Linked DNA regions of Homo sapiens: region 2 is linked to region 1. Evidence: fine-mapped expression QTL. Tissue or cell type: monocytes after LPS. Region 1 holds a variant in brackets; the other region holds the start of a gene. All regions are shown on one strand. Distances are from middle to middle.

Evidence for each region. PIP is the estimated chance that this variant, and not a neighbour inherited with it, causes the effect.
Region 2: PALLD starts here. The variant in region 1 is fine-mapped to the expression of PALLD in monocytes after LPS (Fairfax 2014, PIP 0.95).

Annotation. Positions count from the first base shown.
Region 1 is chr4:168,738,925-168,744,158 of GRCh38, reverse strand. All of the region lies in intron 10 of PALLD (palladin, cytoskeletal associated protein), which reads right to left. Among named protein-coding and RNA genes, the nearest start is that of PALLD-AS1, 93 kb to the right of the region's middle. The variant A/CA (reference allele first, on the strand shown) is at 2,815.
Region 2 is chr4:168,494,084-168,499,317 of GRCh38, reverse strand. It overlaps PALLD (palladin, cytoskeletal associated protein), which reads right to left and starts at 2,266. Exons shown (of 22, transcript NM_001166108.2): 1 at 2,124-2,266. The region is part of intron 1 of LOC107986198 (a long non-coding RNA gene); the gene reads left to right.

The DNA of each region.
Region 1 (5,234 bases):
GAGGGAAATATCCTATGACTGAAGTGACTGCCCCAGAGTGTTGTCCTCTGGGCTGAGAGCTTTCATGAGGACAGGACTTTACTGGCTTCTAGCATCTGTTTGCTCTCCCCCGACCCCTTTTCCAGGGAAGGCAAAGGCAGAGAACTCTGTGGAGCTTTCAGACTTAGATTTTTTTCTGGGATTCCCCTCTATCTATAGCAAAGATTTCTCAGACAGTGGAAGCAAATTCCCATCTGTTAAAATTTGGAAATTTCCAAATCCCCCTTATTTATCTTGTGCTTGTTTTGGAAAATCTGGGAGATGTCCACAGATAGATACATGGCGGTCTCCTGAAGGATGTTTTTAAAAGATTGCAAAACTGAATCACAGTGAAAGTCAAACTGCAAGCAAGCTCTTATTTTTCGGCTCCATGCCAGACCTGACCAAACAAAGCAAGCAGAAAATAAACAAGGACATCAAGTTAAAAGACCCAGTCATCAACCTCATTCAAACTGTTATCCATAACAGAGACCAGGGTGAGCATCGCCAACCAAAGTTCTAAGTTTAACTTTAAGCTACTTACAGACCTAAAATCATGGTACTGCTCACTTAGTAGGAATTGAACAAACCCATCAAATCTTACATTATAAGTTGGAATTTTGAAAAAAGGAGTGCCTTTTCATAGAACTGCCTAGTGATAGGACAGGAAACATCATCATTAATGTCTTTTATCCAAATCTGTAGTGTCCCCATTAAAAAAAAAATCTCGAAAGTAATTGAACCATATTAAGTTTCTGTCTTAGACACTGTGCTAGTTGCTGGGGATTAAACCATGATTGAGATCTTCATAGATATCATGTTCCTTCAGAATATGATAGCCGCGTGGTGTAATCAAGCATCCAGATGGATGTCACTCAGTGTGACAATGAATTCAATCCACCCATTAAACAAAGAAATATTTATTGAGTGTAGATTATGTGCCAAACACCAGGGCAGGGGCTGGGGCAAGGTAAAGAATAAGATATAACACAATCTCTGGTGTCAGAGAACCCTGAGAGAGTAATTGCGTGAGAGTTATCACGCAGTAGAAATTTCTACTGCTGGGGAGGACACAGAAGGCAATCTATTCTAGTCTATAGCTCCTGGAAGGCAGAGAATGGCGTTTAAACTAAAAGATGGTAGGAGGTGGTCGGGCAAATGGAGATTACAGAAGAGAATAGCAGGAGGAAGGCCAGGAATCCAGATGACCTGAATCACTGAAAATCAAAAGGAGGGAGTGAGATTGTCAAGGCATTCTTTGTAGTCTGAAGGAAATCCAACTACATTCAATAAATTACTAGAATTCTTTCCTTATTTAGTGCTAAACAGAAAATATACAACTGTCAATCAGAGCTTATGATTAACATATGTAGGGTTAACATAGTGAATATGATTGCCACTAGATGCAAATACACCCATCATTTCAGTTGAACTGTGAAACGAACTAGATCTTTTGAAATACTGAAAACTACTAAAAAATTCTGATTATTGATTTTCTTTCACCATAGTTGGGAAACACTGTTCTAATAACTTAGTATCTGGAGCAAAAGAACTCCTGAGTCCGGTATGTTCATGGAACAGAAACTGTTCAGGTCCTCAAAGCACCAGGCATTTGACCTTCTAGCCAAATGAAGTACTTCTATGAAAATGAAAGAACATCTTAATACTATCATAACACTTTAAACAAACCTGGCTTTAAAACACACAGTCTTCTCCTCTCAGTGACTTATTTCAAATGTACTTATTCCTTCCCTGGGATAAATTTGGCCTCTGTATCAACCCAGAGGTCAGAGAGCTAAGAACACCTCCCCTTTGAGGGATAAGCAAAAGCAGGAGCTGAGAGAGTAGACACAGCATAGGTCAGATAAAAAAGATGGATTTGTTCATGATGCACTGGGTATGGAACTCAAGAAGGACGGAGAGATGGACAACACTTGCCAGTGATGCAGAGAAGCCACGACCTCTACATTAAAATCCATAAAGCCCTCTAAGTAGAAAAATCCAGTTGAGCACCATCCATATGGCTTCCTCAGAAACACTCAGAATAGCAAAGCTCCCTAGATGCTGGGCAGCAAGAGCACAGGTGGTGGATCTGCCAGCTTTTGCCCGCACTGGAAAGTCAGAAACAAGTGGGCTTTCTCTAGTGAAGCTGGGACATGTCAAAATGCAGCCACTTCCCCTTTTGTCCTGGTCACAGGGCACTGGGCTTTGGCGTGCTCTGACAAATCGAAAAATAAAGTCAGCTGTCAATGAAGACTGGTTCCTTCGCTCTCCCACCTCTCCAAAATGTTTCTGTTTATTCTCCAAGATTTGTCCAATAGGAGCTTTCCAGGACCACTGAGCCTCATCAGAAGAGGCACTCATGTTCTAGGTCTTTGCAGGATGAATTGCTCTTTTTATTTTCCTCTTTCTCTCTCTCTCTCTCCAACCATTCTTTTTTGTTTGTTTTTTGTTTTTGAGATAGGATTGTACTCTGTCGTCTAGGCTGGAGCGCAGTGACACAATCATAGCTCACTGCAGCCTTGAATTCCTGGACTCAAGTGATCCTCCACCTCACTGTCCCGAGTAGCTGGGACTACAGGCATGAGCCACCATGCCGGCTACTTTTATTTTTTTTTAAAGAGCCATGGTCTTGACGTCTTGCTATGCTGCTCAGGCTGGTCTCAAACTCCTTGGCCTCAGGCAATCCTCCTACCTCTGCCTCCCAAAAGTGCTGGGATTATAGGCGTGAGCCACCACGCCCAGCCTTGACAACTATTCTTATCAAAAAGATCACACACACACACACACACAAAA[A/CA]AAACAAATATAAGGAAGGAATGTTTTTTAGAACTTGGATTTCCTCACTAGCTCAGGAGCCAGTGACCTCATATTATAGCGATGAAGACAAATAAGAATAGTTTCTGAATTGTCACTATTCTCTGTAATTTCTTCCATTTTTGGTGTCCTTGAAACATGACAGCAGTACCAACTGGATAAGAGTGATCCGCCATCCAGAGTTTGATTTAGTTTTATGGAAATGAGCCATATATAGGGATAGATCATGAAGCCAATGGGAAACATTTAAAACTTGAGATGAAGTTAATCAAGCCCGTATTACACTTAACAGTCTTCTCTATTAAATAAACTTCTCTTCCTTCAAGATACTATTTTGAACAAATAAGATTTCTGCAATTCTGCAAGACTGAAGTTAATTAAACAGCATAGCAAAATGGAAAACAGATGTCACAGAACATTTTCAAAGGATTTTAATGACATTCAGCCTATTTTCTTAGACTCGTTTGCAGTTGCTATCGTACCCTGCACTTAAGTAAGTTCCTGAGTTGTTGGAATGGGAGGATTTATATCCATTTCATATAACTGGCAGTAGAAAATCTATTCAAAGAGAAGTACAGTTGTGGTAATCTTGCAGAGTTTTTTTGCTCCATAACCTGACTGGCTCTTTTGGCTTAAACTCTTGAACTCTTTTAAATTAATGTTTTCCATCTTTCAAAAGAACTTTCCATCTTTCAAAAGAACTTTCCATACCACCAACTCTGATTCTAATTTTTAATGGTTCTTTCTGGTAGTCTCAGGCTTAATTATTCTGAAAGCGCCTGCAAGATTGACTAAGAAACTTAGTATCTGTCAATTCCAGCTCAGAAAAAAAACCACAGCATGAGGAAATTTTGGGAGATGAAACTCCTTGTTAATTCAAGTATAGGCATCCACAGTTAGATTTTTAATGTAGTTTTTCATACATTGAGGAATATTATATTCAAAATTCAAAACTGCAAAGGTCTCTTTAAAGTATCAAAATTTCAGATGACACTGAAGAGAAGAAGTAAGTTTACTTTCTCAAAAAGTGCATTCAGAAGGAAAATGTAGAGTGACCAAACAGGGATTATAGAGAATCTTGTGACTACTTTTCTTCTTTTGTAACTCATCCTTTAAAGCATCTTTTAAGATGTTTCCCAGTGCTTGAAACCATGTGATGATTACTGACATATGTCCCAAGAAGCATTACAAAATTTACAAGTTTTTTTTTTATACAGGAAGCTCAACTACCTATTAAAAATGGCATGTGTCATTTTTTTTCCAGTTTCAACTAACATGGGAATTAAGAGGAAGCAATGAATTATCATGCTGCCTGTTGTTTATATAAGCATCCCGTGCAACTTTCAAACCAGGGGCTGTTTTAAGCTGAAACAATGGTATCTTTCAAATCAGAGAAGAGATGACATAAATACATGCTACGAGTGTGAAACAAAGGGACAAGAATTCTAATTAGAGCAGCAATAAAGTAAACCTGAAACAAAAATTCACGCAGTAAATAGGTACCCTTATCTTGGGCAATGGCTTGTTTCTGGTGCTGCCTTTATGACGTGTGTGATGGAGAGGACTGCAACTTCTATATTATCAACAACATGGGCTTTTTTCTTGTCTGGACTTTTAAAAAGTTGATGCAAGTGTTTGTACATATTAATGGGGGATATGTGATATTTTGTCACATGCATAGAATGTGTAAGGATCAAGTCTGGGTATTTAGAGTATTCATCAGCTCAAGTATTTATCATTTCTGTGTTGGGAACATTTCAAATCCTGTCTACTAGCTATTCTGAAATATACAACAACTTTCTGTTAACTATGGTCACCCTATTCTGCTAACGAACATTAGAACTTATTTTTTCTAACTGATGTTTTCACCTATTGACCAAGCTCTCTTTATCTTCCTCCAAAAACCCTTCCCAGCCTCTAAGAAAAGGGAACTTATATATTGTTGGTGGGAATGTAAGTTAGTATAGCCACTATGGAAAACAGTATGGAGATTTCTCAAAAAACTAAAAACCGAACTACCATACCATCCAGCAATCCTACCACCGGGTACTGATCCAAAGGAAAATGAATCAGTATATCAAAGAGATACTTGCGCCTCCATGTTTACTGCAGCACTGTAGCCAAGATATGGAATTAACCTAAATGCTCATCAATGGACCAATAGATAAAGAAATGTGGTATATATACACAATGGAATACAATTTGGCAATAAAAAAATAACGAAAGGCTGTCATCTGCAGCAACATGAATGGAATGGGAGATCATTGTGTAAAGTGAAATAATCCAGACAAAGAAAAACAAATATTGCATGTTCCACTCATACATGGGAACTAAAAATGTTGATTCCATGAAGGAAGAAAGCAGAATGATAGATACCTGCCTGGACTCTATGCTTGAAAGTC
Region 2 (5,234 bases), 240 kb after region 1:
TCCCTCCCTTCCTCCCTCCCATCCTCCCTCCCATCCTCCCTCCCATCCTCCCTCCCTTCCTCCCTCCCTTCTCCCTTCCTTCTTCCCCGTCTCCCTTTCTTTCTTCCTTCCTTTTTTTTTTTTTTTTTTTTTTTTTTGCTACAAAGGGTCCTTTAGGGCAAAAGTCAAACACGAAAATTTTATGAAATTTTATGTTTGATGCAGAAAATGCACTACAATTTTATAATTTATTTCTTAATAAATACACATGGATTATTTTCCTTTCTAATTATTAAATTGTCAATGCAGGCAGATATATTTATCCTACAGTTTTAAATATCTCTTTAAACAGCTTATTTAATCTCAATTTCAAGGACATAATCTAATAGCTCATTTAATGCAGAAACAGCCAAATAAGATACTTTACAGAGTTTTTGAAGTTATCCCATGTCCTGTTCATCTTATCAACTTTATTCACCATACTGAGTCCATTGCAAATATTTAGATTTTACTTCTGAATTATCCATTTCCATTACCATTATCCAATTCAGGGCTTTATTCTTCTCACTTAAATTCAAAACCTATTTACCAAATTTGCTTCTATATTCTCTAATATGATTTAACAGTTAGAAATTTTAGTCGAAGATACTTTGTTCAATCTTTGTTTTCTTTGCTGTAATTTCACCGGGACACAGTCATTAACTCTAGATGGCCTGAATTTCTAACTGGAGCTCAGTAATTGCAATACCCTTTGACAGCCTCCACACACATATTGTTTAAGAAGTGGAGCTCTTGTCTGGGCCTTGCAGATTCCACTTGGTATCTCTTAAAGAACTTGTCATATTTATTTTTAAACCTGAATAATGATTGCCCTCTACATTTTTAAAAAATGAGGTAAGGAGGTCAAAGTGATTGTACTTGTCCAGTGCAATCCAGATCCTCATTCTATTGTGAAATATGCTATAAGGCCAGTTTTAATATTCAGCTCTAGCAATAACAGAGAAACCCAGAGGAAGAGCTGACACAGAACCCCTGGGATACAGACCCTAATCCATACCAGATTCTAGGATGCCAGAGGACTAATTTATATTCTAGGAATGTGTAATCATGTATTTACAGGGCAGTTAGTGGCCAGATAAACCTCATCGGCCTTTTCTGCTGTTAGCAATAACTTGTCAAAGAGACTTTGATTTTAAAAATCTGAAAAAAAAATCTGAATAATTGAGGTGAGTATTCAAGTTCTTTCTGTGAGAAAAAACATTGGAAGGCACATTTATCATGAAATGAGGATTTAATTTCTGCATATATGTGATTGAATAGATTTGTAATAGTTTTATATTGCCAAGAAATGGCTTTATATGTCACCACATTATTCATACTAGAAGGCAATTAGTATTTTTAGCAAATGTTAATAAGTAATATGAGCCTGAAATCATTTTATGTCAACCTCCTATATTGGATTCAAGACAATTTCATGTGCAACTTAAAACAACATGATAAAAATTATTCTGTGATGTTTAAACTTGACTGGACTCGAGATTGCACTGTGGTTTCCCTTAGTAAGCGTTATCTTATTAAAAATATGTATGTAAATTTTATGCATGAATATAATTTAAAATACCTGCTGTTACTATCCCAACTCATTTAATTATGTCCAGTGAGTTACTTTTAGAATCTTTTGAAAGTGTAATTAACAATTTATAATGTTACTGAAATCTAAGGTCTATCACTTTAAGCCATCATCACTTATCTAGCTTAAATATGGGTGAGGGTCTAGAAAGCTGCGTTTTCCTTTTCTGTGAAACATAACACATACACGATCTTGACAAAAGCTGGCTCCATAAATACATTTAATCCTTTTGGAATTGATAGCACCATCTTAGCATGCTTAAGCTTATAACAGAAAGTGTAATTCTCTGACAGCAAAGGCAGAGATGAAGTGGGCAGGCAAATCTTACGTATTATCTGTTTTTGGCAAAACCGTAACATTCTCATTACGTTTCCTCTCCAAGCAAAAGAATAATTAAGGTATCTTGTAAATAGTATCATATCTTCAGAAAAACTTTTGTATTTTTAGTTTTTTTTTTTTTAAGTCCTTAAAATGTTGCCCTACTAGTTAGTATATTAAGATACACCTTACAGACCTTTTCAATGCTTGGTCAGTTTGAAGACTCCAGAGAGGTGATGAATTTCAGATGAGCATTTCTTCTTTTCTGGGAGAATGGAGGTTGTGGCCTTGCCTATTCATTAGAGACTGCCTGGTCCGTGGTCACTTTGAGGCAACTGTGGCCTCAGACTCTCATCTGTCCTCTTACTCCACTCAGCTATATTTGGTAACTGAGCTCATGTTTCAGCAGACTGCCACGATCAGGAATTCCAGCAGCGGGCTGGGAAGCACCCCCAGGACCGAGGGCTGGGTTCTTAGAAATAAAGCCACTTAACATAGAAGGAACTATATTTATGGATCTGATAAACGTAGGATTTAAACACATTCTTCTATACTTTGGACTTGTAGCTGGAAATCACCACCTGGACCTTTAACATGTTCTTAATCAATTTAAAGTACAGTATGTGACTCCAAGTAGAAAAAGTGATAATCCAAATGGAAGCTCTTCTTACTCTGATCTTCTGTTCTGTGCATTTAAATTTTGGTCATGTGCTAGATTACCCTAAAATAGTAAATTCAGTAACTGAAAATTTAGCCACCTGTCAAATTGAGTGGAAAGTCCCATTGTTCTCTTATTTCATATTGCTAATTAAAAATTGATATATGACTATGGTATGTATTAAAGGCCTTGTCTATAATAGTATTAAATAAGTATGAACACACAGGGACTGGATCTTATCCACATTGCAACATTGAGTTCTTAGCTCAATGCCTAGGACATCATGAGCATCTCTTAAATATTTGTCAAAGAAATAAATGAATGTTGAATGAATAATATTCAGGAAAAGTATCAACCCTCTTACAGTTGCAAAAAATGTTTCACAATCATTTAATATTTTGATCTTTCAAATGACAAATAGATATAGCAAGAGTTTAATATTTTGATCTTTTAAATAACAAACATAGATAGCAAGAAGAGAAAGCTTTTCTGTTTAAAGGTCAGGTAGCAGAATCAAATATAAGGGGGGCAAAAAGAGCAACACAAAAGCTCCCAGTTAACTTGGAAATGGGGTGCTGAGTCTTCCTTTGTCTGGGTAAGACCATCACATTTGATTCAGTTTAATATCTAAATATTTTTTCTTTTCTGATGTTAGAAAATTTGTGAAGGTCTGCTATTGTATTTTCTTTATAGGCCAAACTGGTCCTTTAGAAATGGTCCTTTCTGTGAGTGGATACTTCTGTGGGTCATTTCATCTATTATATTAATTAAGAAGTGATTTTAAAATTTATACTTACGGCTGGGCGTGGTGGCTTATGCCTGTAATTGCAGTACTTTGGGAGGCCGAGGTGGGTGGATCATGAGGTCAGGAGATTGAGACCATCCTGGCTAACACAGTGAAACCCCCTCTCTACTAAAAATACAAAAAATTAGCTGGGCGTGGTGGCGGGTGCCTGTAGTCCCAGCCACTTGGGAGGCTGAGGCAGGAGAATGGTGTGAACCCGGGAGGCGGAGCTTGCAGTGAGCCGAGATCCCATCACTGCACTCCAGCCTGGGTGACAGAGCGAGACTCCTTCTTAAAAAAAATAAAAATAAAAATAAAAAAATAAAATTTATACTTACAAGGAAATATAACTCTGATTGATTGTCTTAGTTTGTGTCATTATAACAAAATGCCACAGACTGGGTAATTTACAAAGAACAGAAATTGATTTCTCATAGTTCTGGAGGCTGGGAAGTCTAAGATCAAGGTGCCAGCAGGTTTGTTGTCTGGTGAAGTTCCTGTCTCTGCTTCCACAGTGATGCCTTGAGCACTGTGTCCTCACATGGCAGAAGGTGGAAGGGCAAGAGGGGGTCAAACTTCCTCCATCAAGCCCTAAGGGCATCAAATCCCATTCATGAGGAGTCCTCCTGAATCACCTTCTAAACGTTACACCTCCTGATACTGTTGCATAGGGGATTAGGAATCAACAAAAATTTTGAAGGGGACAAAAACCTTCAAACCATAGCATTGCTTAAACACATATTTATATCTGCTTTTTCCTAAAACCACAAGATAATAGTAAAAACTGAAAAGGGCAGAAATTGGGAGGGAAGACAATAGAAGATATCAGAAATGAACAAAATTGTTGGAAAGAGATAAATATAAGTATGCATGTAACTAAATTACAAAGCTTAAATGCCTGCAGGAGGAGATACAGAAAAGAAGCAAGTGATTCACCCCATGGAGTCTCAGAAAGGCTTGGGAATAGGAAGCAGTGAACCCATCTTTAGAAATAATTTTAATTGGCAACTCTGATTTTTGCCTCTGCCTTCTGGTGAACTGTGAGTCTCATGGTGAATTCCAGAGGCAATCATGTTGGACTACTGGCCAGACGAGGCCTCTCCCACATTTCTTTGGATTGCTTGGTTCCTAAATCCTGGTATAACACCAGTGAAGTGATGAAGCCATAAGAAGAAAAAAGAAAAAAAAACAGCTTGTGGTCCTGAGAGAGGCTTCAAAGATGGATATGACTTTACTCAAAAGGACACAGAAATGTGACCTTTTTGTGTGTGTATTGCAAATAGTGCAGCAAACCAAGCTTGTTTTAAAAATCTTATAAGAAGTTCTTTTCCTTAGAAAATTGGCATCAAAAAAATTTAGAAAGTTTGATCAACACTCTTAAGTTAGTATAGCAAGGTCCAGTTGATATTAAGGATGAGATTAGTGTGTGGACAGTAATATCATTTCTCATGCACTTTCATATTTTCCACCAGAGCCCATTTCTGTGTGCACGAAGGTTGGGAAAGGGAGTCTGTGGCTCCTTCATGGGGCTCCAGTTCAGCTTTCAAATGATTACTTCTTCTTATAGAAATTCCTGCTCTTTTGAAGCACTTATATTTGCATCAACCATCCTCCATCCCACTTTTTAAAATTAAGACTTTGGATCTAGTTGGGCTCTTGGTTCTCTTCTTCACTCCACACCCTGCCATTATTCTGGGTGACTCAGCACCCATTTGTCTATTCTATATGTTGGCATATTGGTTTTGGACCTGCTTTTCTCTATGAATCTTCATCTCTGTTCCTCTTACAGATCACACAAACAGACCTCCTCCACCTCCAAAATCAGATATAACTTATCTACTGCTTCATAACAAATTACTGCAAAA